2 separate regions of the Homo sapiens genome follow, and region 1 is linked to region 2. Evidence: fine-mapped expression QTL. Tissue or cell type: prefrontal cortex. Region 2 holds a variant in brackets; the other region holds the start of a gene. All regions are shown on one strand. Distances are from middle to middle.

Evidence for each region. PIP is the estimated chance that this variant, and not a neighbour inherited with it, causes the effect.
Region 1: E2F4 starts here. The variant in region 2 is the best candidate, but not a certain one, in a credible set for the expression of E2F4 in prefrontal cortex (GTEx, PIP 0.55).

What each region holds. Positions count from the first base shown.
Region 1 is chr16:67,185,054-67,197,209 of GRCh38, reverse strand. E2F4 (E2F transcription factor 4) reads right to left here and starts at 5,055. Exons shown (of 10, transcript NM_001950.4): 1 at 4,848-5,055; 2 at 4,340-4,449; 3 at 4,040-4,201; 4 at 3,695-3,738; 5 at 2,751-2,812; 6 at 2,230-2,524; 7 at 1,204-1,428. The coding sequence starts at 4,982. It overlaps EXOC3L1 (exocyst complex component 3 like 1), which reads left to right and starts at 7,074. Exons shown (of 14, transcript NM_178516.4): 1 at 7,074-7,239; 2 at 7,527-7,579; 3 at 8,030-8,190; 4 at 8,270-8,489; 5 at 9,373-9,985; 6 at 10,072-10,189; 7 at 10,326-10,451; 8 at 10,553-10,653; 9 at 10,863-10,973; 10 at 11,720-11,849; 11 at 11,952-12,074; 12 at 12,153-12,156. The coding sequence starts at 7,534. RefSeq lists enhancers at 3,904-4,013, 5,094-5,233, 4,402-5,332, 11,729-11,828 and a silencer at 4,814-5,003.
Region 2 is chr16:66,369,861-66,386,444 of GRCh38, reverse strand. It overlaps CDH5 (cadherin 5), which reads right to left. Exons shown (of 12, transcript NM_001795.5): 2 at 6,898-7,126. The coding sequence starts at 7,107. LOC105371318 (a long non-coding RNA gene) reads left to right here and starts at 10,644. Exons shown (of 3, transcript XR_933687.3): 1 at 10,644-10,844; 2 at 13,228-13,288. RefSeq lists enhancers at 2,722-3,246, 6,344-6,970, 12,006-12,579, 13,222-13,751, 14,950-15,451. The variant C/T (reference allele first, on the strand shown) is at 7,153.

The sequences.
Region 1 (12,156 bases), 810 kb before region 2:
CTACAGGGTGATGACTCCACTACAAACCTCTGGCCAGGAGGACACAGGGGAAGCAGAAGAAAATGCAACCAGAGAGGACTATGAGGGATTTCACATGCCAGGCTCAGGAGTTCAGATCTTATCTGGTGGCCCTCAAGGAGCCATTAAAGGTACTTTTGCAAACAGAGAAATGCCACATTTTTCTGTCAGGCCTGCATTTCAGAAAGATTAGTCTGTCAGTCAGGGTAAAGAGAAAGATGCTGAAGAATCCAGGACAGAGGTGGCCAGGGGTCATCCTGAGTGCTGAGGATACCAGAGGATAGGAGGGGACATCTGGGACAGACCTCAGTTAGCTGGCATGGGGTGGGCAGCAGAAGGAGGAGGGATAAGGAACTAGAACTAGAGTGAGAGCCAAGGGTCAGGCCTGGATAACTAGGGCTGACGGCTGGGTGCGCAGAGGTGGAAAGCAAGCTTCGGGAGGAAACTAAGTTCAGTTGAGGACATGCAGGAATAAAGTGTCCATTGGATGTACACAGGACGGCAGGTGGACACCGAAGTGTGCAGATTGGGAAAAGATCTAGGCCAGGCGGAGGCTGGGGATTCGTTCACCCAGAGCTGCAGCCCTCTCCAGGAGTGGAATGGGACAGAGCCCTCAAAAACAGCAATGTTTAAGGACACGCCAGGGAAGAGTTCAAGAAGCCAGTGAGATAGGAGAGCCAAAAGCTGGCATCATGATGCCAAAGGAGGAAAGAATATTGACACAGACCAAGAGAGCACCAGCAAAACACGCTGGAGGCTGCTGGGCTCGGCAGGCCTTCGGCAGCTTCTCAAGAGTAACACCGCTGTAACACTGGGGCTGGGGGGGTGACTGCTGCAACCTGAAAGGTGACTAGGAGACTAATGAATGGAGATTACTTTTTCAAGGAGTCCAGACAGAAAGGAGACAGAGAAGATGAGAGAGAGTGATACAGAGAAGTGTCAATTAGTGAGGCGGTGCTCCAAGGGGTGGCAGGAAAGGGCTTGAGAGACGGCAGGGAGTTCTGTGTTAGCCTAGGATGGGGTGCTAGAGGGGGCACCAGCACTGACCCAGAGGTGCTGGCAGAGAGCTCTCGTGTCCAGCAGGGTTGACAGGAGATCTGGGTTCCATCCCCAATTCTGTTTTCTGACCTAGGACTGGACTGAGGCTAGACTCTCTCTCTCTGCCCCCAGGGGGCAGGTACTCACCACCTGTGGGGTCTGCCTTGATGGGCTCAAAGGAGGTAGAAGGGTTGGGTCCGGACGAACTGCTGCTGTTACTGTTGCTGCTGCTGCTGCTGCTGCTGCTGCTGCTGCTGCTGCTGTCCAGCAGGGCAGAAGACTGCAGTGGCCGGGTGTCCAGTGTTGTTGGGCCCAGTGGGAGTGAACTGAGCTCACCACTGTCCTTGCTATCAGTCCCAGGGCCGCCACTCACTACAATGATAGCCCCCAAACCCAGTCATACAAGGTCAGGAAGAGGTCGTTGAAACTGGCTGTGCTGGAACCCAGACACAGGAGGACCACAAGCCTGGTTCCCAGACCCAAGGAGAATTAGGCATTGCCAGTCACCCCCAGAGGAAGTAACCTGAAATTAGTCACCACAGGAGACAGGGACACAAGACCTACAGAAGAAGACTCGTGGTCAACATGTCTGCTGTGGCCATACTTCAAGACGGGCTACCAGGGCAATTGAGACACCAGTGGATGTGGATCTGGGGGAGAAAACTGCCACCAGCAATGGCTCTTCCCACAGTCAGAGGTTCCCTGTTAAAAAGGGCCCATTCAGGCAGGCATGGTGGTTCAAGCCTGTAATCCCAGCACTACAGGAGGCCGAGGCAGGCAGATCATTTGAGGTCAGGAGTTCGAAACCAGCCTGGCCAACATGGTGAAACCCCATCTCTATTAGAAGTACGAGAATTAGCTGCGCATGGTGGGCGCCTGTAATCCCAGCTACTCAGGAGGCTAAGGCAGGAAAATTTCTTGAGCTTGGGAGGCAGAGGTTGCAGTGAGCCAAGATCGCGCCATTGCACACTCCAGCCTGGGGGACACAGTGAGACTCCGTCTCAAAAACAAAAACAAAAAAGGCTCATTCATTACCATAGCAAGGGAAGGCTAGGTGGTCAGGAAAAGGACAATCCCCAACCTGAAGAGTCTCTTCCAACTCTGAGCATGGTGTTCCACAACACAGAGATACTACCTCTTGGGCCTCTGTCACAAGCTCCCATGGTGCCTCACCTGTGATCTCAGCTGCTGGGCCAGCCATTCCCTGGACTTCTGCACTGCCAGGGACAGCAGTGGGAGTGAGCTGAGGACTATTTGGACGTGAGGCTTCCTGGGACTGGGCTAGGGCAGGCTTGGGCAGAGGTGGAGGTGTAGAAACAGCAGATGGGCTCTGGAGCAAATCTTCAGGTGGTGGCACAGGCACAGCCACAGGGGGTGAGCTCCATGCCTCCTTGTTCACCAGCAGAACCTCAATGGGACCACTCACACTCTTCAGGTGAATCTGGTACTTCTTCTGCCCATTGAGACCCTAGAGATGGGTGGTAAGGGATGGGAGATGGGTAGAATTGTAAGCAGGCTTGGCTCCTGCCCGACTCCGGGTCAGGACCACAGTGTCCTCTCCCACCCAGGATGCCCATCCTCCTAGATAACCCCAAACTCCAGGCCTCCCCCTACTTGCCCCACCCAGGACTTATCAGGCTCCACAGCCAGCACCCGCCCTCAGCTGACCCCGCCTGCCTGGGCTAAGCACCCACCTCTGGGATGGGCACCTCCAGGCTGGTGCCTGATGGGGCCCGGATGGCCAAGAGGGTATCTCCTAGAATGACATGGAGAATGGGTCAGAGCCCATGGGCTCAATCTGAGCTGGGAACAGAGGTGCCTGCCTTTTGGAGCAAGGCAGGAGATCACGGTCCCTGAGGAACTAGACAGTGGGCCTCACCCATCCCCCATAGTGGCCAGGCAGAGCTAAAGCTCTTCTCTTCCTGAGAGCCCAGGGTCAGTAACCAGGAAATCTGGGTTCAATTATGTGGAGTGAAAGATCACTGGCCACAGGCACCTCATTCCTCTACCGATGGCTGATCCCTAGGTGAGGGTGTTCTAGCCAAGGCCAACATCCCTTTCCCATGACCAGTCAGGAGCATACAAGATGGAGAAGAAACACATCAGCGGGGCACAGTGGCTCACACCCATAATCCCAGCACTTTAGGGGGTTGAGGAGGGAAGACAGCTTGAGCTCAGGAGTTCAAGACCAGCCTGGGCAACACAGCAAGAGCCCATCTCTTAAAAAGAAAAAAAAAGGAACAGATCCTGTATTCACAATGCAACTAAACTAACAAGTTGGAAGTGGGCACCCCCATGCCCTGCATGTAAGAGCCTGCACACAAGCAAATACACACATATCCTCTCTCCCTCTCTCCCCCTTGTGCCTCTATCATACCCAAGAAGCCAAATCCAGGAAACAGTAGAGATGGGAACAGACCCAGGGACCCACTCCAGAATTTCTGTACCCTTTTGGTATAGCTGACCTCCACAGGGTCCCAGTGACACTCAGACAGAAGACTTACCCTGCCTGGTTCCTCTCTGAGCAGGCCCCAGAAACCCTCTTAAGAGACAGAACTCTCCTAAGACACTGAGCCCAGTGCTCAGGACTTTGGCTGAGCCCAGCCCACCCCCTTACCCCTACCCAGGCTCTGCTCACCAGCAAAGCATCTGCAGATGTCCTCATGAGTGACGTAGGCCAAAGTGTGAGGGTTAAGGAGAATGGCTGATGCCCTATGGTGACAGATGGCAGACTACAGAAAAGACCCAATTCTTTAGCTAAGGTCTGACACACAGGCCCTCAGAGACCGTTCTGGGGACTCAGGTCCACCGGGGGAGGGATCACAGGCTAAGAGTGGAAGGGGAGGGGCTCTGAGGAGGGAGCCTGAGGCTGGGCCATGGCCAGTGGCTATAAGACAAACTCCCAAGAGGAACAGGACTCAGGGCAAGTTGAACCAGAGGGCCCCTTGCCCACTCCCCCCAGCAGGGACCGCCAGGAGGATATCAGCTGTTCTGCACGTCCTCTGTGACGTTCCGGATGCTCTGCTGCACCCACACCTTGTGCTGGTCTAGTTCTTGCTCCCGCTGCTGCAGCTCCTCGATCTCTGCCTTGAGCTCAATCAGTTTGTCAGCAATCTCCCGGGTATTGCAGCCAGGCCCCACACCCCTGAGCCCAGGGAGTGGGGCTGAGAGGGACTGCTGAGAACTCTGGGTCCCATGGCCCCTGCCTTCTTCGGCACCCTCCACCCCACGCCCGACACTTCTGGGTGGGAGACTCTACTACCCTCCCACTATGCCCACTCACTTCCACTGGATGCTGTTCTTGGACTTTTTCTCGATTAGCCCGATACCTTCCAAAACATTGGTAATGTCGTAAATCCGCCGCTTCTGGCGTACAGCTAGGGTGTCAGCTGCCTGGCAGAGAGAATGGAGAATGCTCAGCCCCACTCTGGGGTGTACCCCCAGCCACCCTGAGACGTGGTCTGGGAAGGGAGTAATCTGGATTCCAACCCTGTAGTGCCTCCCAGGCGCTACTGCAGCTCAGGACCGCAGCTCTGTCCCATAGGCAGCTCTTCTCCTCGCCAGCCAGGAAGGGCCACGAGGACGAACACCTGCAGCCCGAGCCTGGCCCATAGCTGTAGCTCGATGGCCTCGGCCGAATGAATGAAACATCCCCCGGCTTCTCTCCTGTGAGAAAGCACACGATGGCGGCCGGCTCTCGGAGGACCCAGCTGGGCCGCCCCCGGGGTTCCCGCTACCGGCCCAGGCCTGGTCCACCAGCCTCCCTTGTCTCCCCTTAGCCCAGGCCGCACCAGCTTGAGGTCAAGCACGCCGTCCTTGGCCTCCTGCAGAAGGGACACGAACTTGGTGGTGAGCAGTCCCAGGCTCTTTTCGTGCCGGCTTGGAGTGCCCGGGGGCGGCGGCGCCTGTGGCCCGGCCTCCGCCATCGCGCCCGCCCGCCGCCTCCCCTCAGCCAGGCCAGGCCAGGCCGGCGCCGCCGCCACTTCCGCTTCCGTTCCTGGCCGCCGGGCAGCCGGAGCCAGCGTTACTGCTTCCGCTTCCGTCCCGTGCGCCTTCCAGGGAACGTGGCGCTATTGCTGTCTGTGGGTGCAGCCGCAAAACTTCAGGGACCAGTAGCAAATGTCCAGCCTCCGAATAAGACGAAAACTACCTGGGTAGACCGGGGAGTTGGGATGAAGTTGGGGAGGAATGAGAAGGGCGTCAGTGGGCCGCCCTGGCAGTAGAGAAGGGGACGCCATCGGAACTTTCCTTGCCAATCTGCCCCAACATCACTAACTCTGCCTAGTCCCCATCTTGGGAGAGGAGACCACACTACCTGACTAATCCAATCTGCTCCCTCAAACCTGTTCCTTTTCCATTTTTTTCTCTTTATTTATTCTTTTATATATTTCAAACTCATTTTACTGCCACATCAAACCTGTTCCTAAAGGCTGCCCTACTGTCTTGGGGTCACCCCATCTATTCCTATCCCTCACTTCCTGCCAAACAGCAAGCACTAACTATATCTACCTTGTCCACCTTGTTCCACCCATGGTCCTAGCCTCATCTTTCGCTCGTCTTGTCCTCACAGTACAGTGCTCAGAGACTATGGGGTTATGAACACTTCAGCCAATGCAAACGTGTTTACCTATGTGTAAATATCAGTAAAGCACTCAGTCATTCCTGGCATGCAGGAATGTGTGATACGGTCATTTTGTAACTTTTAACATTGTTACTATTTATTATTGTTTCTTTTAGATCAGGTCCTCTGGGAAATGGGACTCGAGATAGGGTTTTGCAGCAAGTTTGTTGGGGATCCACACTTTTTTTTTTTGAGACAGGGTCTCACTCTGTTGCCCAGGCCGGAGTGCAGTGGCAAGATCAATGCCGTCTCAGCTTCCTGGGCCCAAGCGATTCTCCCACCTCAGCCTCCCAAGTAGCTGGGACCACAGGCATGCACCACCATGCCCGGCTCATTTATTTTTAGTTTTTTAGAGATGTGGGTCTCACTATATTGCCCAGGCTAGTCTTGAACTCGTGGGCTCAAGAGATCCTCCCACCTCAGCCTCCCAGAATGCTGGGATGACCGGTGTGAGCCACCGCACCTGGTCAGGATCCACACCTTTAAGGGATTAAGACAAGCAGAATTGAGCAGATGCAATTATATTATAGGCCTCAGCCTATCCCACTAGGATCTCTGAAATTGGGGTAGCACTTCTGAAGGGTTCATGTTCACACGATGGTACCATGCTTTTGCACCCCAATATTGACTGAGAGACTCAGTGGTGTGATCTCAGTAGCCTACACTCCTGGCAGCTGGAGAATGAGCACTTCTGTCCTGAAGGGTGGATTTGGGTGGTGGACTGAACATCCACTAAATAATTACCACCTTATAGTCCCTTCCCTGGCTCCCTATAACTCTCAAGATAAACACAGCTGCCCAGTTGCGGTGACTCACGCCTGTAATCTCCCAACACTTTGGGAGGCTGAGGCAGGCAGATCGCTTGAGCCCAGAAGGCTGCAGTGAGCTATGGTGGTGCCACTGTACTCCAGCCTTGGTGACAGATCAAGACCCTGTCTAAAACAAAAAAGATAAACACAGCTTTCATGACCCTCTCCTACCACCCCCCACCACACCCCTCTTCACAAGAGCCTGCCACCTCTCACTCCTCCGCAGAGGTACACATCCTCCTCAGAGGCTGGCCAACACAGTTTTCATCCTGTGCTGTTGATGTCGTCTGCATCCATATCTGCACACTCTGCCCACCACCCCAGGTTGAGGCCAAGTCTAGCAAATCCCTATCTCCTCTCCTGAGCACTAAGAGGTTCTGGGTAGGCTGGTCAAGACTGGTTGAGTACAAGTACACCCCACCCCCCCGCCCCTCAGGGAAGTGTCGCCCAGCTGTCCCCACCCTCTGTGCAGACACTCTTTCCTGTTGGGAATAAAATGCCAGAGACTCAGCTTCCTTCCTTTCTGTTGATGGCCTTGGGGAGGGAGGAGCCTCGGTGGGAAGAAGGGGCTTCTGGGTGGGGAGTGGGAGAGAGACTTCCTTGGGGAGAGGAATTCAGCTGCACGCTGGAGTCAGCTGGAGTTGCCCAGGCCCTGTGAGCAAGTGGCAGGCGTGCCCAGCTGCATTGGGGAGAGGGCTGTTCTCAAGGCCAAGGTCATTTTTGGAGGGAGAACTGGACGCCTGATCAAATCTGGTAAGTTCTGTACCAAACTGTCCTGTGCAGCTCAGAGCAGGACCAGGGTCCAGTGGAGGCCTGTGCCCACTCTGTCTCGCTTGACATCTGCAGGGGCACGACTGGGAAACCTAGCAGGCAAAGCCTCCCAGGTGCCCTCCGCATCACACCCGCTCCCTCTCACTTCCCGAGGGGGCCGGGAAGAACCTCCTTCCTCCTCTCAGAAGGGCTTAGACAGAGGCAGCAGCTCACAGGGGCATCTACTCTGCCTGCTTGCCCCGGGCCCACCTCAGCTCTGGCTCCTCCAGGCCCACAATGGACTCAGCAGCCAAGGATGAGATGCAGCCGGCGTTGTCCCCTGGTATGAACCTTTTGGGTGGACTAGGGGAGGAATGATGGCAACAAAGATGGGACTGGCTGGGCGCAGTGGCTCACGCCTGTAATCCCAACACTTTGGGAGGTCAAGATGGGCAGATGACCTGAGGTCAGGAGCTCCAAACCAACCTGGCCAACATAGTGAAACCCCGTCTCTACTAAAAATACAAAAACTAGCTGGGCGTGATGGCACGCGCCTGTAATCCCAGCTCCTCGGGAGACTGAGGCAGGAGAATCGCTTGAACCCGGGAGGCGGAGGTTACAGGGACCCGAGATTGCACCACTGCACTCCAGCCTGGGCAACAGAGCGAGACTCCATCTCAATAAACAAATAAACAAACAAATAAATAAATAAATAAATAAATAAGAAAGCTGGGACTGGGGTCGTTGGGCCCTCCTCCCTGACTACACGGCTGCCCAGGCTCTTCCTTCCCAGGACCTGAGTGGCCAGAGCAGGAGCGGGCAGAGCAGCTGGCCCGGGGTGCAGCGCTCAAGTGGGCCTCAGGCATCTTCTACCGGCCGGAGCAGCTGGCCAGGCTAGGCCAGTACCGCAGCCGCGAGGTGCAGCGTACCTGCTCCCTGGAATCGCGCCTCAAGGTGGGCATGGGGCAGGGGGTGCGGGTGCTGGGACTGTGCTGCAGGGCTGGCCCAGCCTCATGGCTCCATCTTTCCACAGTCAGTGATGCAGTCATACCTGGAAGGCGTGCAGACTGGTGTGTGGCAGCTGGCCCAGGCCATTGAGGTGGTGCAGGGAACCCGGGAGGCCCTGAGCCAGGCCCGTGGGTTGCTCCAGGGCATGTCCCAGGCCTTACAGACTCTAGAGCCCCTACGGGAGCGGGTTGCCCAGCACAAGCAACTGCAGGCCCTGTCTCACCTGCTGCCTCGGCTGCGGGCAGGTGAGCATGCAGGGACCCTGGGCCTCAGCCTCCAATAGTCAGTCCACAAACACCCATCCCTAATCAAGGGGCTGGGGCACTAGATGGGGAACTGCATAGAGCAGCACACCAGGGACCTCCCAGACAGTAGCCCGGGCTTCCCATGGCCTATGAGGCAGCTCATCCTGGGATTCCCACGTGTGGGATGCTTGAGTCAGGACAGACACCCAGTCATGTGACTCTGGCCACCTGGTTATCAGTATATTCAAACTCTTCCCTAACAGAGTGGCTGAGCGAGTACTGGCAGGACCCCCCGATTTCCCCTGCCTTCCCTCCAGGATCCTCAGCTTCCTCATATTCCATGAGTTCATGGGTTGACCTCTGGCCCACCAGGTCTTTAGGACATTGCCAAGATCCTCTTAGATTGGCCAGTACTCTACTGGTTATTTATTTATTTATTTATGGTTTTTTGTTCATTTTTTGTTTTGTTTTGTTTTTGAAACAGAGTCTCACTCTGTCACCCAGGCTGGAGTGCAGTGGTGTGATCTCGGCTCACTGCAACCTCCATATCCCAGGTTCAAGCAATCCTCCTGCCTCAGCCTCCCCAGTAGCTGGGATTACAGGCATGTGCCACCATGCCTGGCTAATTTTTGTATTTTTAGTAGAGATGGGATTTCACCATGTTGGCCGGGCTGGTCTCAAACTCCTGACCTCAAGTGATTCACCCACGTTGGCCTCCCGAAGTGCTGGGATTACAGGCATGAGCCACTGTGCCCAGCTTACTCTACTGGTTGTTAAATATTTTATGCATCACCCCCGCCCTGGGCCTCAGTATCCCCTGCTGTACACATTGAGGCGGTGGGAAGGCTGAGACCCAGGGCCGTCTCCTTTTCACTCTCATTAGTGCCGGCTGCAGTGTCCCACACACAGACTCTGATTGATGGCCAACAGTTCTTGGAGGCATATGTGAGCCTTCGGGAGCTGGAGCAGCTGCGAGAGGATACGTGGGCACCCCTGGGGGGCCTGGAGTTGCCAGTCTTCCAGGGGCTGGACCTTCTGTTCGAGGCACTGGGCCAGGCTGTGGAAGCAGCTGCAGGGGCCGCAGGGAAGCTGGCACGGGAGGACCCAGCCCTGTTGGTGGCTGCTGTGCGTGTGGCGGAGGTGGAGACTGGACGAACAACCCCCCTGGGCCAGGTCCCCCGGGACTGGCGTCAGCGCTGTCTGAGGGCACTACAGGAGGGCCTGGAGCAGGCCCACTTTGGGTCACCTCTGCTGCCTGCACCAGGGGCCCTACCAGGGTGGCTGGAGGCTCTGCGAGTGGCCCTGCCAGTCGAGTTGGCCACAGCTGAGGCACTAGTAGCGCCTTGCTGCCCGCCACAGTACAACGTGGTCCAGCTATGGGCCCACACGCTGCATAGTGGTTTGCGCCGCAGCCTGCAGAACCTCCTTGCAGGGCCTGAGCTAGAAGCTGCGGATGCCTTCGCCTTGCTGCACTGGGCACTGCATGTGTACCTGGGGTCAGTGCCTTTGGGGCAGCGGGACATGGGGGATCAGAGGCTGGGGGCTTGGTGGCTTGGTGTGACACCAGGCCACCTATCTCCAGGCAGGAAATGATGGGGAGCCTGGAGTTGGGGCCTGAGGCTGATGTGTCCCAGCTGGAGCCCCTTCTGACCTTGGAGAACATTGAGCAGCTGGAGGCAACATTTGTGGCCAACATCCAGGTGAGTAGTTGAGGCACAGGTCCAGAGAAGTCCTACTTATCTGCTGTGGGCCTTTATCTGCAGAGTGGAATGTCTACCCATCTCCAGCAGGGTCAGATCCCTGCTACATTCCTTTGCCCCTGGCCCCTCCCCCCAGGCAAGTGTGTCTCAGTGGCTGCAGAATGCACTGGATGGGGAGGTAGCTGAGTGGGGCCGGGAGCATGGGCCCAACACAGACCCGTCTGGCTCCTATTACTCACCAATGCCAGCCATTGTGCTGCAGGTAGGTGGGAAGTGGCCAGACAGGCAGGCAGCCTCCATGGGGCAGTGGGGAGGAGAGGAAGGAGGGAGGCTTTGCCGATGGCTGCTCATTTCTGCCTGCAGATCCTGGAAGAGAACATTCGTGTGGCCAGCCTGGTCAGTGAGTCACTGCAACAGCGAGTGCATGGCATGGCACTGTCAGAACTGGGCACATTCTTGAGGAGGTTTGCTGAGGCACTGACCCATTCCTGATCCCTATCCCTGCTCCCCAGGCAGCCCAAAGGGGCTCTGAGTGAATAAGACATGTCACAGGGAAAGGGCTCTTTCAAACAAGGACTTGGGTATCTTGGAGGTGGGACAGGAGTACCAGGGACTGGGGCTGTGGGGATGCCAGCATAGCAGCAAGTCCAGGAGCCACCTCTGCCCATTGCAGCTTCAGTGATGCTCTGATCCGATTCTCCCGAGACCACTTCAGGGGGAAATCAATGGCCCCTCATTACGTGCCCTACCTACTGGCCGCCCTCAACCACAAGTCAGCACTCAGGTACCAGAAGGCCCCCAGGGAACCCCACCTTCACTAACCCCCTATTGAGTACCTATTATGTATGGGCTCAGCCCACACTAGGACACTAGGGACTTTGGACTCACATCGCCCTGGGGTTCCAATTCTAGTTCTGCTAATTACTAGTTGTGTGACCTTGGATGAGTTACCTAATCTCTGTGAATCTCACTTTTCTCATTAGTATTATGGGGGTACTAATGGAATGTTCTGAGAATCACATGAGATAACATGTAAAGTGGCCACCATAGTGCCTGGCACATGGTGTCAATTGTTCATTCGTCCAGCAAATATTTCAAGGCCCTACTCTGTGCCAGTAATGTCTGGGGTTACAGCTGTGTGTATACACGCACACACACACACACTCCCTTCCTCTTGGGTGGTATGTTCTTTTTGGTGGGGGCAAGGAAAACAAGTGATGATTTTTTACTCCCTCCTCACTGGGATACTTCCCTTCCTTTACGAATGAGGAAACAGAAACCGAAAGAATGTTTTCCTCAAGGACGCACCGCGAATTTGAGGCAGGTCTCGCTGGGCTGTGTCCTTTGCAGCTCGCCAAGCGCCCGTCTCCCAGCCCTGGTCCATGCCTGGGACCAGAAGTGCAGAGAGCCGCTGTTCTCGCTCCCTCCCGTCAAACACTTGCCCCACAAGGTGGCGCCGGAGGGTCTGGACCACCGAGGGCCATGCGGGCCTTGGCCTTGGTCCTGAAGCCGTAGTTTTGCTTGGTCCAGCTCCTCAGTGTCTGTCCTGCAGCTGGACGGGGCGCCTTCAGGGGCCTTGGCTCCAGTGGAAGCTGCGCTGGACGAGTTGCAGAGGAGGATCTACCGCTTGGTGTTGGAGGCGCTGCAGGCGGAGCTCCAGGTGAGGCCTCCTTCAGGTCAGGATGGGAGCAGGTGGAGAGGTGGCGGTACAGCTACGTATGGGGGTCTCCGCGGCAATGCCAGATCTGGATCATTTCCCCAGCCCCTGTTCGCGGATCTGCCCTCGCGCCAATGGCTGTCGAGCCCTGAGCTCCTGCAAAGTGTGTGTGAACGGACGGGGCGCTTCTGCCGGGACTTCTGGCGCGTGCGGAACCCCACGGTTCAGGTGGGTTGGGGGAAAAGATTGGGGAAGGGGCGGCGCGGGTGAGAGGCGACCTGCACCCGCCTGATTGCCTCCCCGCAGCTGC
Region 2 (16,584 bases):
AAAAGAGGGGAGGTTGGGATGAGGGCGAGGGTAGACAAATAACCTATTGGCCATAATGTTCACTATTTGGGTAATGGGTATGCTAGAAGCCCAATCCCCACGAATATGCAATATACATGTAACAAACATGGACATGTACCCCTGAAAATAAAATTTTTAAAAAGCCAAAAAAAAAAAAGAACCTCTGACTAGTCACCAATGAGTTGTTCTCATGGTGTGAGTTGCCTGGCAGAGCCCCAGCATGCCTAGAATGGTGCCTGAACAGAGTAGGTGCTTAGAAAACATTTTTTGAGTGGAAAAAATATACCTGGTGCCATTGGAAGGCAAAGGATATTTTTGCCCTGTAGAAGTCACTTAACCTCTCTAAGTTTTAGTTGCCTCATTTGTAAAATGGAAATATTGCTTCTGATGTTGCTTTGCTCTGAGGAGTAGAACAGCACTTTTGAAGATGAGTTCTGGGAAACACTGAACTCTTCTGCTGTTCCACGCAAAGATGGGGTCCTAGCCAGTGGTGTGCTGGCGCTGGATTGTATCAGCTTGGCTTTCAAGAACCAGCTTAAATTTTCAGGAATATTTGTGAGCTGATTGTTAAATACAGCCACTATTACAAATTAAATTATATGAACTTACAATTAAATAAATCATGAAAAACAACGAATTCTCAGAATTCATCGCTTCCTAATTGTTTTGCTACCTTTGACTGTGTTTTGAGGTTATCTGTGTTTATGGTATCTGTATGATGGAAATGCTACATAATGATGTGCTCATGAGGATCTTCTCCTGTCTTGTCTTGGCCTTCGATGACATCACATTGATAGCTTGAAATGAGACATGGTGAGAATATTTACACCATGGAAATTGGCAAGTGCTACGCATCAGAACTTTTCCCCTGGACAGCCAGTTGTCAAACATATATCAGCACACCCCTGGGCCCAGTACAGAAAATGGTGCATAAAATATTCTCTTCTTGGAGATTTACAATGTACAGCTCTGCAGAAAAGAACTCCAGTGAGCTTTGTGTAACTCAGGATTTTCCATACTTCTTAGACCACAGAACCATTTTTCTGTGTAACATGTACTGTTCATGTCCCAAGGAGTAAGATTTGGAAAATAATATATGTAAAGCATCTTACACCAAACAGGGTTCTATAAATGCTAGCTAATAATTATCAATAATAGAGCCACAGGTTAGAGGATCTCCATTTAAAGAATCATAGAAACAGAAAATATTAGGAACGGTATAGTTCCTATAGAATAGTATTCTATGCATATACAATGATACTCTCATAGAAGGTTAGTATGTCCCCAAAATAGAATTCTATTCAATTAAAAAATATAACTTGGTGCCTGGGAGGTGCCAGGCCCCCACTAGGAGTACAGAGGGTACAGATCCCATTGTGGCTCTCAGGATCTAGGTTTGCAGCCTCAGAGGCTGGCATGCTGAGGAAGTGCAACATTGCTTTTTTGTTTGTTTGTTTGTTTTTTGAGTTTAGCTCTGTTGCCCAGGCTGGAGTGCAGTGGCACGATCTTGGCTCACTGCAACCTCCGCCTCCTGGGTTCAAGCGATTATTCTGCCTCAGCCTCCTGAGTAGCTGGGATTATAGGCATGTGCCACCGTGCCTGGCTAATTTTTCTATTTTTAGTAGAGACAGGGTTTCACCATGTTGGCCAGGCTGGTCTCAAACTCCTGACCTCAAGTGATCTGCCTGCCTTGGCCTCCCAAAGTGCTGTGATTACAGGTGTGAGCCACCACGCCCAGCCTCTTTTTTTTTTTTTTTTTTTTGAGACAGGTACTCCGGAGTAGCTGGGACTACAAGTGTGCACCACCAAGCTCGGCTAATTTTTGTATTTTTTTGTAGAGATGAGGTCTCACTATGTTGTCCAGGCTGTTGTCAAACTCCTGGGCTCAAGCAATTCTCCTGCCTTGGCCTCTCAGAATGCTGGGATTACAGGCATGAGCTACTGAGTCTGCCTCACATTATTTAAAGTCAAATAGAGCAAGGGCTTTTGTGTGAAGGCATCTGGTGAGGACTCTTTAGAAAGGCTGGACTCGGGGGGCATGGTGGCTCATGCCTGTAATCCCAGCACTTTGGGAGTCCAAGGTGGGTGGATCACTTGAGGTCAGAAGTTTGAGACCAGCCTGGCCAACATGGTGAAACCCCATCTCTATTAAAAATACAAAAAAAAAAAATTAGCTGGGTGTGGTGGCACACCCAGCTGTAGTCTCAGCTACTTGGGAGGCTGAGGGAGGAGGATCATTTGAGCCTGGGAGGCAGAGGTTGCAGTGAGCCAAGATCACGCCACTGCACTCCAGCCTGGGTGACAGAGCGAGACTCAGACTCAAAAAAAAAAAAAAAAAAAAAAAAGGCTGGACTCCTCCAGAGAACTCAAGAGAGGCTGGGGTCTCAAGAAAGAAGAGGGAGATTCCAGAGGGTATGGCCACATCCCATGAGGTCTGGAAAGTGTCCCCAGGGTTTAGCAGCAGTGCAGTCATTGGAGCCCTCAGTGAGGGCACTGACAGGGGTTGATAGGGTGGGAAGTTAGATGATGCAGCCTAGGGAAGATTCTAGAAGGGGAGGAAGTGGAGACAGGGAGTGAGGATTGCCCCCTTGGTCGGGCAGGGTGGGAGAGAGGTGGGCAGCAACAAGCATCTTGGAGCAAGGCTGTGGCGTGCAGGGGGCAGGTGGGTTCATGAGGAGGTACTAAGGCCCAGTGGCCAGGATGCATGATGAACAGCTGGACTAGAGGCAAGAAGCCATGCCTCAGCTCTGTAACCTGTGACCTGCGAGGACAGTGGAGACTCAAAGAGAAGGGGACAGTTTGGGGCCCTGTGTGAGTTGCTCAAGGTGAGGATAAGATGGTGGCCTTCCAACTGGGCTCTCGGTGAGTGTGTTAGGACCCACCAGGGCAGGGAGGATGGAGGGAGGAAATCAGCTTGGATCTGTGTGATTGGAGTTCTGCATACAATTTCATGTGAATATCCAGTTTCTGTTTTCCTTCCCTTCAATTTTTCTTCCCTAGACTTTATTTTTTAGAACAGTTCCAGATTTACAGAAAAATTGAGAAACTAGGGCAGAGAGTTTCCAGATGCCTGCTCCTCTTTTTCCCGGAGTATGAACATCTTACATGAATGTGGTGCATTTGTTATAATTAATGGACCAATACGGATGCATTATTATTTACCAGAGGGCATAGTTTATGCAGAGTTCCTTAGTTTTTTTTTACCTAATGTCTTTTTTCTATTCCAGGATCCCACACTGGATACTACATTCCACAGAGGTGTCATGTTTCTTTAAGTGCCTCATGGCTGTGATAGTTTCTTAGACTTTCATTGGTTTCTGATGACCTCGACAGGTTTGAGGAGTATGAGTCACGTATTTTGCAGGATGCCCCTCTGTTGGAATTTGTCTGATGTTTCTCTCATGATTAGATGAGGGTTATGGGTTTCTGGGAGCCTCCACTCTCCCTACCCCTGTTTTCTAAGATCACTGTATTTAAACATAACATCTTAATGCCAAAAACCCATATTTGTGGGTTCAGAAGGCGGCTCAGGACTTGCTCCCATTGTCCAGCCAGGTCTGTAAACAAAGGCTCCAGGCTCTGACCTTGATAAACAGGGACTTCCTTCCCTCAGATTACATCCTCAGGAGCCGGAGGTGATCCTTGGAGCCCTGTCCTTGTCTTTTCCAGGCACCCTTGTTTCTTCCCAGCGTGACGACCCCTTGTGGTTCCTCGGAGACCCAGCCCCATGCCAGGGGCCAAGTGAATGCTGTTGGCAAATGACAGCAGGCCTGGCGTTCTTCCTGCTGCTAGAAACCCTTGGGCGAGCCCTTGAAAGGTAGCCCCCACTTTCTACGGACTTTCCCTGACTCACTCCATAGATTTTCCTTGAGGTCAGACATTCTTTTTAGAGGCTGATTCAAGGCACAATTATCCCACCGGGAAGGATGCAGGTGGATTGACGACATTTTCCTGTATGACACAGAGCTCGCATTTGTGTTGAGAGTCAGGAATGCTGGTTTTCCTAGGGCGGCATTCTCCTGGGGCTCTGTCCTGGTCTCCTAGTGTGACCCTGGGCAAGTGTCTTCCCCTATGAGTGGCCATGCTGGAGGACTTCAAGATCCCAGTTATTGTTGGGAGCCATGGGCACAGCCAGCTGGTTGTGGGTGGGGCTCCGAGTGGAGATTCCCCAGCTGGCCCCATTCCCATCCAATTTTGTCAGATGCTACACAGATCTTTCCTAATTTCCCAAATGGGAAAATTTCATGGCAGCCATGGTTGGCCCTGCCCTAAACCCTGAACCCTGGGGCCACACCGGCCTTCTCAGTCTGAGCATGGGATGGCCCTATAGCCAGTCCACGGACCAAGGTCTGCTGGGGCATTTCTGGTGCCATGGCCAGACTGGGCCTTCCCATCAAAAGTTCCTCTCCAGCCTGTTTCTCTACAGCCAGAGGGCACCCCCACACCATTTGTGGGGTTCTTTGTCTGACATATGCTGCCCCTCTAGACCAGGATGGGTAAACTGTTTCTGTAAAGGGCAGGGAGCAAATATTTGTAGCCTTATGGTCATTTGGTCTTTGTCACCACCACTCAACTTTGCCATTGTAGCATGAAAGCAGCTGCGGGCAATCTGTAGATGAATGAGTGTGGCTGTGTTCCAATAAAACTTTATTTGCAAGTCCAGGCAGTGGGCTGGATTGGGCCCGCAGGGGGTAGTTTGCTGATCCTTGCTCTAGACCACCCTCTCCATGAGGGTGGGGACCATGTCTGTCTTAGCCCACTGTTGTTACCTTTCTGGCACCCAGTCCGGTGCTTGGAATGGTCCTTCCTTTCTCTAGCACATTGACATGTTCTTTTTTGCACCTGTCATTTAGATTCCAAGAAGCTGACAAAGTGAGATTTTAACGCACTCAAAATAAACTTTCTTCCTCATTGAAAACTCTGAAAGCACACGGTCCATCTACCTGTCATTGTGTGTGAAATTCCACTACTAGGGCCATTCCTTTCAATTAGACTGGATAGCTTTGACATCAGTGACAGTTTGACATGGTAAGGCAATTCAGCAGTCACTCAGATATGCTCTGAGCTCTAGGAGGATGGGCTTAGGATAGACATGTTTTAAAGGAGGACAAAGTGAGGGTCAGAGTCTGAGGTCCTGCCCTGGAGGGCAGGCTTGGGTCAGGTACCTCATTACAGGTGTTGTGGAATATGGGGAGCTGTGTGGGGTCACAGGGAACCAGGGATAGCCTGAGAGAAGGGGTTTTTGAGGAGGTTCAAAGGCCTAGACTGGAGTTGGCAAAAATATGGCCTGGATGATTAACTTCATCTTCAGCACAATTTTGTGGAAGGCTGCACAGTTCTTTTCCGATCTTTCAAATGGGAAAATTTCACGGCAGGGTTGGCTGGTCTTGTCCTAAACCTTGAACCCCCAGGCCAGGTGAGCCTCATCAGCTTGGGCACTGGATGGCCCTTCTGTTAGTGATATCTAGTTTACAGACCAAGGTCTGGGAGAAATTGAACCATAGAGTTCACCACCACCTCCACCACCATCATCATCACCTCCATTATCACCACTATCAACACTTATCTTTCATCACTACCATCATCACTACCACCATCTCCATCAACACTTATCCTTCACCATTACCACCACCATCATCACCACCATCACAACCACTATCACAACCACCACCTTCCCCTTTACCATCACTACCACCACCACCACCACCTTGTCCTTCCCCAACCTCACCACCATCACCATCACTATCATCATCACTTCCATCATCACCACCATCAACATTTATCTTTCATCACCATCATCATCATTTATCTTTCATCACCACCATCATCATCACCATTACAACCACCACCTACCCCTTTATCATGACCACCATCACCATGATCACCACCATCACTGCCACCACCTACCCCTTTATCATCACCGCCATCATCGTGATCACCACCATCACAACCACTACCCATCCCTTTATCATCACCATCATCACCATCATCACAACGACCACCTACCCTTTATCAGCACCACCATCATCACCATCGTCAGACCACCGCCTACCCCTTTATCATCACCACCATCACCCACCATCACAATCACCACCTACCCCTTTATCATCACTGTCATCACCATTATCACAATCACCACCTACCCCTTTATCATCACCACCATCACCGTGATCACCACCACCACCTACCCCTTTATCATCACCACCATCACCATGATCACCACCACCACCTACCCCTTTATCATCACCACCATCACCGTGATCACCACCAACACCTACCCCTTTATCATCACCACCATCACCATGATCACCACCACCACCTACCCCTTTATCATCACCACCATCACCGTGATCACCACCAACACCTACCCCTTTATCATCACCACCATCACCATGATCACCACCACCACCTACCCCTTTATCATCACCACCATCACCGTGATCACCACCAACACCTACCCCTTTATCATCACCACCATCACCGTGATCACCACCAACACCTACCCCTTTATCATCACCACCATCACCGTGATCACCACCATCACAGCCACCACCACCATCACCACCATCACAACCACCACCTACCCCTTTATCATCACTACCATCACCACCATTCTCACCACTCCCACCACCACCTTGGCCTTTCCCATCCTCACCACCATCACTATCACTACCACCACCATTGCTACCATTACCACCACTACTTCTACCACCACGACCTCTACCACTATTGCTACCACCTTCACCCTTATCATCTCCACTCCTACAACCACCACAATATCTATTACCACCTTTGCCACCATCGCCATCACCACCACCACTTGTCACTATGGGCCAGCTGCTGATGGCTTCTCCTGTCCTGGGGCTTGAGCCTTACCTTGCCTACATGATGGGGAAGTGAGGTGTTTTTCTCTTCATCAATGTGCATCTGGTTCCAAATCCAATCTCTCTTTTGGCGCCGGTGGGTGGGCAGCAGGCTGTGGGTGTCCCGTTGGGCAGGGTTAGCACCTGCTGCTGCCACTGCTGCCACTGCCAGCAGGCCCAGGCAGGCGCCCGATGTGGCGAGGAGCATCATGAGCCTCTGCATCTTCCCAGGAGGAACAGATCTGGGGAAAGAGGAGACACATTCAGA[C/T]TCTGGCCAGTGACGATGAAAGGAGTACTTAGACACAGGTATTTCACATAAGAGCAGCTAGATATAATGCCAAAAGCCTGGGGCAAACACAATCTGCGGGTAATTAACATTATTGTTCCCCCTTTCAGGGAGCAGTCATGCACTCGGATGAAAGGTCGGTTTTAGGACAACATGAGTAAACAAGCGCATTTAAGATAAATTTCCCTACACTTCCTTGTACCTACTCCTCACCCTCTGCCTCAGGGTAGAACAGCTGCCTTCTGCTTATTCTTCCCCGAAGCTATGCAAAACCTTCTGACCTTTCAAGAAGGTTTGCGTCCTTTCCCTAAAATTTCTTCCACCACTCTGACCGATCGCCCATATATGGTGGCCACTGCCTAAGGGTGTGAGCAGCTTCCATAGGGAACCTAACTCCCTTTATCTGTTCACTCCTTCATCCTTCACTGTCTGCTGACACCAGCAGAACCAGACCCCCTTCATGCCTTGATGAACTCCGAACTGGGGAGGGTGAAAATAGACGTGGAAACCATTTCTACTTGCGAGTCACATGTGCTAGGACGGAAGCAAGTGCAGGGGATATGGGAGCCCAGAGGAGGGCCTGTGGGGAAGGTCTCCAGGAAGAGGGTGTGAGGCTGATGCCAATGGCAGCTCCTAAGTCCCCAGGCATTGGGTGCTCAGGTTATCCTCATTGTTCAAATGAGGAAACTGAGGCACACAGATGTTAAGTTCACATTGGAGTAAGTGGTGGGACTCAGACAGGAACCCAAGTGTCTGATAGCTAATCTTTATCAAGCATTTATTTTTTGCCTGGCACTGTTTCAAGCACTTTATATATCTTATCTATTTAATCTTCCCCATCATCTTCCAGGTTGGTGTAATTATAACCCTCATTTTGCAGAAGAGGAACAGAGAGGTTTCAGAACATTCCTGAAATCACCCAAACTGTAAGGAGCACAGCCAGGATTTGAACCAAGGTTGTCTGGCCCGGAAGTTCAAATCCTTTCCTCCTGACTTCCCTTGTCCCAGCAGCTGCTATGGGGTAAGATTTAAAGCCTTCTCTCGGCAAACATCTTCCTGCCTGAAAGCCCCTTTGACAATTTTGCCTTGATTCTGTCTTCAGAAGGCTCTTAGGAAAATCCAACTGTCTTAACCCTGAGGGCCAGCCCTTCACTCCAGATCTTACAGTGAGTGGTCAGCTTTGCTGTCAGAAGAGCAGGGGTGGGTGGGGTGGTGAGTTGAGGGTCTGGGTTCATAGGAATGGCTTCATAATTTGTGTGGCCCAGTGCAAAAGAATTTTAAGAAGGCGACAGAACATTAAACCAAGGATGATGCCCTTTGAAGTGCAAGCCCTGTACAGTTGCACAGGTTGCACACTCTTGAAGGCAGGTCTGTGGGGTAGGGATGTGGATCACCCAGAGATCAAGGCCTGGCTTCATTCTGAATTCCAGGAACAGGGGTTTTCTCTACAGCCCCACGAGGAGTGCAGGCTGTGACCTTGGCCATTAGCATGTTCTCTCAGCCCTGACTCTATCTCTCCACCCTCTGGGGTCCCTGTGTTACTGACCTGCAACTCCTGGGATGATGTAGAGGAAGAACAGGTGGGTGGGAGAGGGAACCAGGACTCACATATGGAGACAGACAAGGATCTACAAGGTGCTGGATGGGATGGCCTCCTCCCTTGACTGTCCCCTGTCTGGCCAGAGGGAGAGGCTGGACTCTGTACATCACAAGAGGTTTGTAAACTCTAGTAACATTTCCCCTGATTTGCTGGCGCCAGGCTGACCTCAGGGAGGGCTGAGGGTGTCTGTGCTGGGCCAGCTGACCTCTGGGCCCACTGATTTTAGTATCGACGGCCCCTGCCTTCTGGTTCCTGCCTCTGGCCCTGGAGGAAGTGGACTCCCAGGGTGGGGATAGGCCCCAGAATGCAAGTGCCATATGCCTGGGAGAGGCCCTGACCCCTCTGGGCCTCAGTTTCCTCAGCCATAAATGAGGGGGTCAACCTGGAAGAGACTTGAGGCCCTTGAAGGGATGCTCTAGGCAGGAGGAAGGCGGTGAGGAAAGGCTTGGAGAAGAAAGGAGGCAGGTTGGGAGTCCTGGCCAGGAAGCTGGTCCCTGACTCAGGGGAGGCGGCAGGCATGACCCCTGCCCCAGCCTCACTGGACCCAGACCCTGTGGCTCATTTCCTTCTTTGTCCAGAAAGAAAGTGCAAGTCTTGATTCTTTCTTCCTGCCTCAAGTGAGAAGTGACTCAAAGATGACAAAGTAAAATGGACAGAAGTGAAAACGAGAAACAGGGAGAGGGAGAGTTCTCAGGGCTCTGGGCAGAACAGGGTGAGCGCCCAGGCTCTGAGCTGATAGATAGGTGCTGGGTGCCTACTGCATGATGGGCTCCATGCTAGGCAATGGGGGTGCCGCAGTAAGTAAGACACACTCCCTTGGGGAGTCTGCAGTAATGGGAACAACAGGAAAATAAATAAGTCAATGAGGAAACGTATCAGCTGGCGATCAGAGATGTTCAGGGAATTACAATGGGAGGTGCTGCAGAGAGTGAGGGGGCAGCTGGCTGAGCCTGTGAGGCCAGGAAGGCCTCTGGGAGAGCGGACGTTTCAGCCCACATCTGAGTGCCAGCCACAGGACTGACAGGAGAGGGAAGGGAATTCCAGGCAGAAGTGCTGTTGCTGGTCTCTGGGTACCTCAACATCCGAGCCCACCTCTGTGCAGGCAGTGGTTGGTTTCCTTAAAGGAGCCCACCTCTCTGAAGCAGTCCCTTCATAAAATCTCTTCAATTGGCCTCCCAGGGTTCGCTCTGTTTCCTGCTGGGAACCCCATCTCTAATACAGTGAGCGGGAATGTGGTTTTCTCTTTCCTGGGGCCTATTGGGATGGGTTAGTGATCCCTAGGGCTGACCGCAGCCAGCGGTCAGATGGATAAATAGAGTCATGTGCTGCAAAATGACTGTTTGGTCAACAATGGACTGCACATATGAATGTGGTCCCCTAAGGTTTTAATGGAGCTAAAAATTCCTCTGCCCTAGTAACATTGCAGCCATTGTGACGTCACAGCACAAGCCATTACTCGTGTGTTTGGGGTGATGGTAGTGTAGACCAACTTTATAAAAAATGTTATATTAGGTTGGTGCAAAAGTAATTGTGTTTTATTTATTTATTTATTTATTTATTTATTATTTTTTCCTTTGAGACAGAGTTTTGTTCTGGAGTGCAGCGGTGTGATCTCAGCTCACTGCAACCTCCGCCTCCCAGGTTCAAGTCATTCTCCTGGCTCAGCCTCCCAAGTAGCTGGGATTACAGGCGCGTGACACCACGCCCGGCCAATTTTTTTTTGTATTTTTAGTAGAGACGGGGTTTCACCTTGTTGGCCAGGTTGGTCTCAAACTCCTGACCTCAGGCGATCCGCCGCGTCAGCCTCCCAAAGTGCTGGGATTGCAGGCGTGAGCCACCGTAGCCGGTGGCTTTTTTTTTTTTTAGACGGCAACAACAGCAATTACTTTTGCACTACCCTAATAGTAAACTAATTTCTTATTGACGAAAGAAAAATATTTTTAAGTAAATTTAGTGAAGCTAAGTGTACGGTGTTTATTAAGTCTACAGTAGGATACAGTGACGTCCTAGGCCACTCACCACTCACTCCCTGACTCACCCAGACCAATTACTAGTCCTGGAAGCTCCACTCATGGTATGTACCATAGAGAGGTGTACCATTTTTTATTTTTTTATTTTTATTTTTATTTTTTACTTTTTTATTTTTTTGAGATTGAGTCTCCCTCTGTCGCCCAGGCTGGAGTGTGGTGTGAATGCGGCTCACTGCAGCCTCAAACTCCTGGGCTCAAGCAATCCTCCCACCTCAGCCCCACAAGGAGGTATGTGCCAGCACATCTGGCTAATTTTTAAATTTTTTTGAAGAGATAGTTGGGGTGGAGGGGTTTGACTATATCGCCCAAGCTGGTCTTGAACTCCTGCCTCAAGTGATCCTCCTGCATTGGCCTCCCAAAGTGCTGGGATTACAGGCTCCTTTTTTATCTTTTACATGGGAATTTTATTGTATCTTGTCTGTATTTAGATATGTTTAGATACATCAATACTTGCTGTCGTGTTAAAATTGGCTACAGCATTCAGTACAGTACCATGCTGCACAGGTATGGAGCCTAAGAGCAATAGACTGTACCGTACAGCCTAGGTGTGCGGCAGGCTATACGATCCAGATTTCTTTGTGTAAGCACACTCTCTGATGTTTGCACAACAGCGAAATCACCTGAACTCGTTTTTCAGAATGTGTCCCAGTCATTAAGATGCACATCACACACCGGGGCCTGTCGTGGGGTGGGGGGAGAGGGGAGGGATAGCATTAGGAGATACACCTAATGTAAATGACGAGTTAATGGGTGCAGCACACCAACATGGCACATGTGTACATATGTAACAAACCTGCACGTTGTGCACATGTACCCTAGAACTTAAAGTATACTAATAAAAAATAAATAAATAAAATTAAACAAAGAGAAAATTTCAGGGTGAAGACGGTCAAAACTAACACATTCAGAATAAAATGAGGTTCCTTCCTTGATTTGAAAAAAAAAAAAAAAAAGATGCACGGCTGTACCTACACCAGACTTCAGCAAAGCAGAGTCCACCAGTCACAGGCTCGGACCACGTGGCTCCTGGGGGGACATTAACTCCTCAGTGGGCTTTGTCTGGCCCCACATAACAAAGCGTTCTCTGAAGGTGCAGAAAAGCCCCTTGGATTCTGTTGTGTGTCCAGCAGGGGCCCTGCTGCTAGCTCTGGAGAGAAGTCCCTTGGAGCACATGGGCCACCCTCAAGCTCCTTCCCTCTGACAGGGCTGAGACTGGCTCTCGCAGAGTCACCTCACAGCAGCTGTGTGTCATTTGCCAGGGCAGAGGGAGGTCTGGGTGCTCAGCTCTCATCAGTCAGCTGTTGGTGAGGGGCAGGACCTTGGGTTGGGGGCATTTGGGAGCTTGGGATCACATAATCCCATTTGCACCCCCATGCCAGAGCCTTGAGCACCCTCCCGAGACAGCTCTTTCTCGCCTGGGACGGTGGAGGAGGGCTGACATCCCTGAGCACTCCCCCGAGGCACACGTTATTTTATTTAAACCTTGCAACAACCCTTCTAGGTAGTTGTCTGCGTTCCCATTTTGCAGGTAAAGAAATGGGGGCTCAGAGAGGTAGCGTAAGTCATCTCAGTTCACATAGCCGGAGGCAGTGGAGCCAGGATTTGAACTTAGGCTGTCTTTCCCCCAAATTAGTGCTTTTTGCGTCATGCCACTCTCTCTATCTCTGTGGTGACATTCACATGTAATAATAATGAACTATTCTCGGTGCTTGGTCTTCATCCATGCCAGCGCATTTAATTTTCACACTATCCCCAGGATGTAAGACTTATCATTCCCATTTCACAGATTAGGAAACTGAGGCTCAGAGACAAACAACTCATGAATGGTTGTCATCAGATCGATCTTTTTCTAAATCCTAGGCTCCTTCTATACTCAATCTCAGAGACACCTGTGGGACCTTCCCATCTGAAAAGCCACATTTATTTGTGTCTTTTGCCCTTTAGGTTAGAAATTTGGCCACTAACTTTGGGAAACTGTGGCGGGTGGATCACTTGAGGTCAGGAGTTCGAGACCAGCCTGGGAAACATGGTGAAATCCTGTCTCTACTAAAAAATACAAAAATTAGCCTGGCATGGTGGCGCATGCCTATAGTCCCAGCTACTCGGGAGGCTGAGGCACGAGAATCGCTTGAACCTGGGAGGCGGGGGTTGCAGTGAGTTGAGATCCTGCCACTGCACTCCAGCCTGGGCAACAGGTGACAGAGCAAGACTTCGTCTCAAAAAAAAAAAAAAAAAAATTGGCTAACCAAAATGGGGGCTGCAGGGAAGGGTCTTGTTGGACAGATGTTCCTTCCCATCATGATGCAGAGGAAACCGGGCCAGTCAGATCTACTGCAGCCACAGCTGAAAACTGAATTTCTCTTGGCTGCAGCCTCTGGAGATGTGGTCATAGCCCTTTTTTCATTTTAGCCTGTTTCCTTTCGGCAGGTAAGAGTCACATCTCTCGGTCGTTCTCAGCAGTTTCCAGAGAGACTCAAGCTGTTGCCAGGTAGATTTGGGGCACCCCAGACATTCAGAGGGTCTGAGGATTTTGGAAGTGATTTCCATGTTCAGAAATTCCCAGCTGAGCAGCCCAGCAACTGCCTGATCACAGTGGTGAGCAGGGAGGGGCCACGCTTGGCAACTCAGATGTAGGTTCTGAGCACGCCGAGGCCAGGTACCTGCAGTGTCCCAGGCATCCAGGATGCTTATCGATGCTGCTGTCCCCAGAGCCATGTGAGAGGGTTTGGGGGCAGTTCCAAATGGAGGAGGATGGGCCCTCTGTACCCTCCCTCAGTCTGGGGAGGTCTGGAGGACCCAAAATGAGAGGACGGAGTGAGTGGCCCGAATCCCCTGGTGAGTGGGCGTGGAGCCCAGGATTAAACAGCAGGGGAGCCTTGGAAAATAAGGGGGACGACTGGGCTCCACCATGCTCCCATGGGAGGTTGGGACCGCAGAGGCCTCTGGGGTCCAGGTCTGTATCTACCGTGGGTGGGGCCACTGGGATCAGAACCTAGACACCTAGGCCAAGCCTGGTGACCGAGGGGTCCTCCGAAGGCTGAGTCACCTGGGCAGCCTGAGAAAAGGTTGGGGCTCCTGCGGCTCTTTCTGCTCCTCTCCAGCTGCCTGTCTGGGTCTGCAGGTGCCTGGTGAGCCTCCAGGCATAGCTCCGGCCCACAGGACGTTAACTCTCTGGGAAGCTCCCCACCCCACCAGGTTTGGTTGCATCCTCCCTGCCCGTGCACTTGCTGTCCTCTCTCCTCTGCCTGGATTTAGGACACATGTCACCACTTCTCTGAAGCTCTCTCTAGAGTCCTGGGGTTATACAGTCATGCAGCAAACATTTATTGAGCATCTACTATGTGCCAGGCACTTAATTCCATGCAGGAATAAACACAGGCTCCACTTCCGTGGGAGAGAGGGATGCCGGTCATGTGGTGAAAAATGCAGTTTGAAATTGTGACATGTGCTTTGATGGACAAATCGAGGAGGCTGTGGGAGCATACAGACTGGGAGGGCCCTGATGGGTCTGAGGACCACAGTCCCAGGAGTGAGTCCTGCCTCTCACTGAGCCACTGTGGGACATCACACAAAGCTCCCTTTGGTCCCTTTCCCTTTGTGGGCGTCCATCTCTCTGGGGTTCTGCCTCCAAGGGGCTGTGAGATCGGCTCAGCTCTGTGCTGAGTTACAGTGTCAAAAAGAGAGGCTAGGGATACAAGAGAAGAGGAAGGGAAGGGAAGGGCGGGGAGGGGAAGGGCTAGAGCTGCTTTTCTTGGGACTGCCTGGGACCCCTGGCTTTGTAGCTAAATAAGACATAGGAAGTCTGGACCCAGCTGGGGGCCCCTCAATGGGCTGGTCCAGCCCCTCAGCCCCTGGGCTGGTCCTGCCCCTGAGCACCAGGAGGACCCCCTGCCCCTCGACCTGACCAGAGCCCCACTCAAGCCTTAGATTCCAGGGGCCAAGTCTGGGCTTTGCAGTATAGGGGGTTTTCAATAGGCTGGAGGGCCTCAGGGGTGGGGCAGAGGAAGGCTCCAGGTCCAGGACACACACATGACATCTGCAGGCCTCATGGACCTGTGACACCCTCAAACATGCCTTCACAAGTGCACACCCCTGACCACAGGCACCTGCCCAGGCCAACTCCTGCAGGGCTCCTCTTTGCAGGCCTGGCTGCTCTCCTCCCTGACCCCCAGCACACCCGCTTTCAGCTAGGATCCCAGCCCAGCCTCCTGCAGCCTCTGGACTCCAGCCCAGAGGCCTGGGGTCAGGGATGAGGGGCAGGGCGCTGGGAGGAGCCGGCCTAGAACATGCAGGAGGTGTGCCTGCTGGAGTGGGGGCACTGAAGACCCAGCTCCGTGTGTGGCCCTGGGCAGCTCTCCCCACCGCTTTCCCATTCCACAGCTCAAATCTCAGTCCAGGTTGGGGCTGGGACCCAGTGACCCCCAAACTCTGTGGGGACTCTCAAATGGTCTACTTGAGCTCAGGCATTTAAAGTTGCGTATTGGCGGCCACAGACTTTGGGAGGATGAAGGGTGAGGCCCTGGGAGCTCGGGAATGGGGTTTGGCCAGGCAGCTATGACCTGGCCCCTTCTGCTTCCTCCTGGTTTGTGGCTCAGTTTGGCCCTGGGATAGGCTTCTGTGGGTTCCAGACCTGTTCCTCTCCCTGCAGGTTCTGCCAACAGCCTCCCCACTCCCTGCTGGAGGAAGTCTAGCTCCTCAGCCAGCCCTTAAGGCCTAGCATGGTTGTCCCCTGCCCACCCTGCCAGCTCTCCTCTCCTCCACTTCCCTGCCCCTTCCAGCCTCGAGGAGAGCTAGGAGTTCCTGAAATGCACAATGCCCTTCCTCTCAGCAGCAGGCTTTTTGCCCAGGCTGTTCCTTCTGACTGGAATGCTCTTCTTTGCTGTGTTTCCTGGGTTAACGCTTTACTTCTTCTCAAGGCCCACACTGCCTACTCCATGAGGTCTTCTGATTGCCACCTGCCACCAGCACAGCCTCTGCCTCCTGGCCTATCTGCCCAGGCAGGTTCTGGGCCTAAGAGTTCACTTCATGCCATACCTGGGTGCATGAACTCAAGGCCCTAGACCTGGACGTGCTGCCTGTCAGCCTGGTGCCAGCTCCAGTTCTGGTCTTGTCACCCACTCCTTCCCCACTCACAGGATTTAGAAACAAATCTGTATATTTTCAGACAACACGTAGGGTGGTCAGAGTAGGTACAATTGTTGGTATAACTTAAAGAAGCTCCTCCTTGTTCCCAAATAGGTCCTCTGATGGCTCATGGGATAGGCTGCCATGGGACTGCCCAAAAGACCACCGATAGGATTTTGATCCTTTACTGACAACAAAATTATCCTTCTTAAGAGTCCCTGGCCAGGTGTGGTGGCTCACACCTGTAAATCCCAGCACTTTGGGAGGCCGAGACCAGTGGATCACCTGAGGTCAGGAGTTCGCAACCAGCCTGGCCAACATGGTGAAACCCCGTCTCTACTAAAAATACAAAATTAGCTAGGCATGGTAGCACATGCCTGTAATCCTAGCTACTTGGGAGATTGAGGCAGGAGAATCGCTTGAATCTGGGAGGTGGAGGTTGCAGTGAGCCAAGATTGCGCCATTGCACTCCAGCCTGGACAACAAGAGCAAAACTCTGTCTCAAAAACAAACAAACAAACAAACAAACAAACAAACAAAAAAGTCTCCAGTGAATATGCAAACACCCCTGAGCAGGGCACCTCTTAAGACAGGGCTGGCAAAACAGAACTCAGCTTGCCACATGCCCCTTTCCACACCTATGGCAGACATCACGAATCA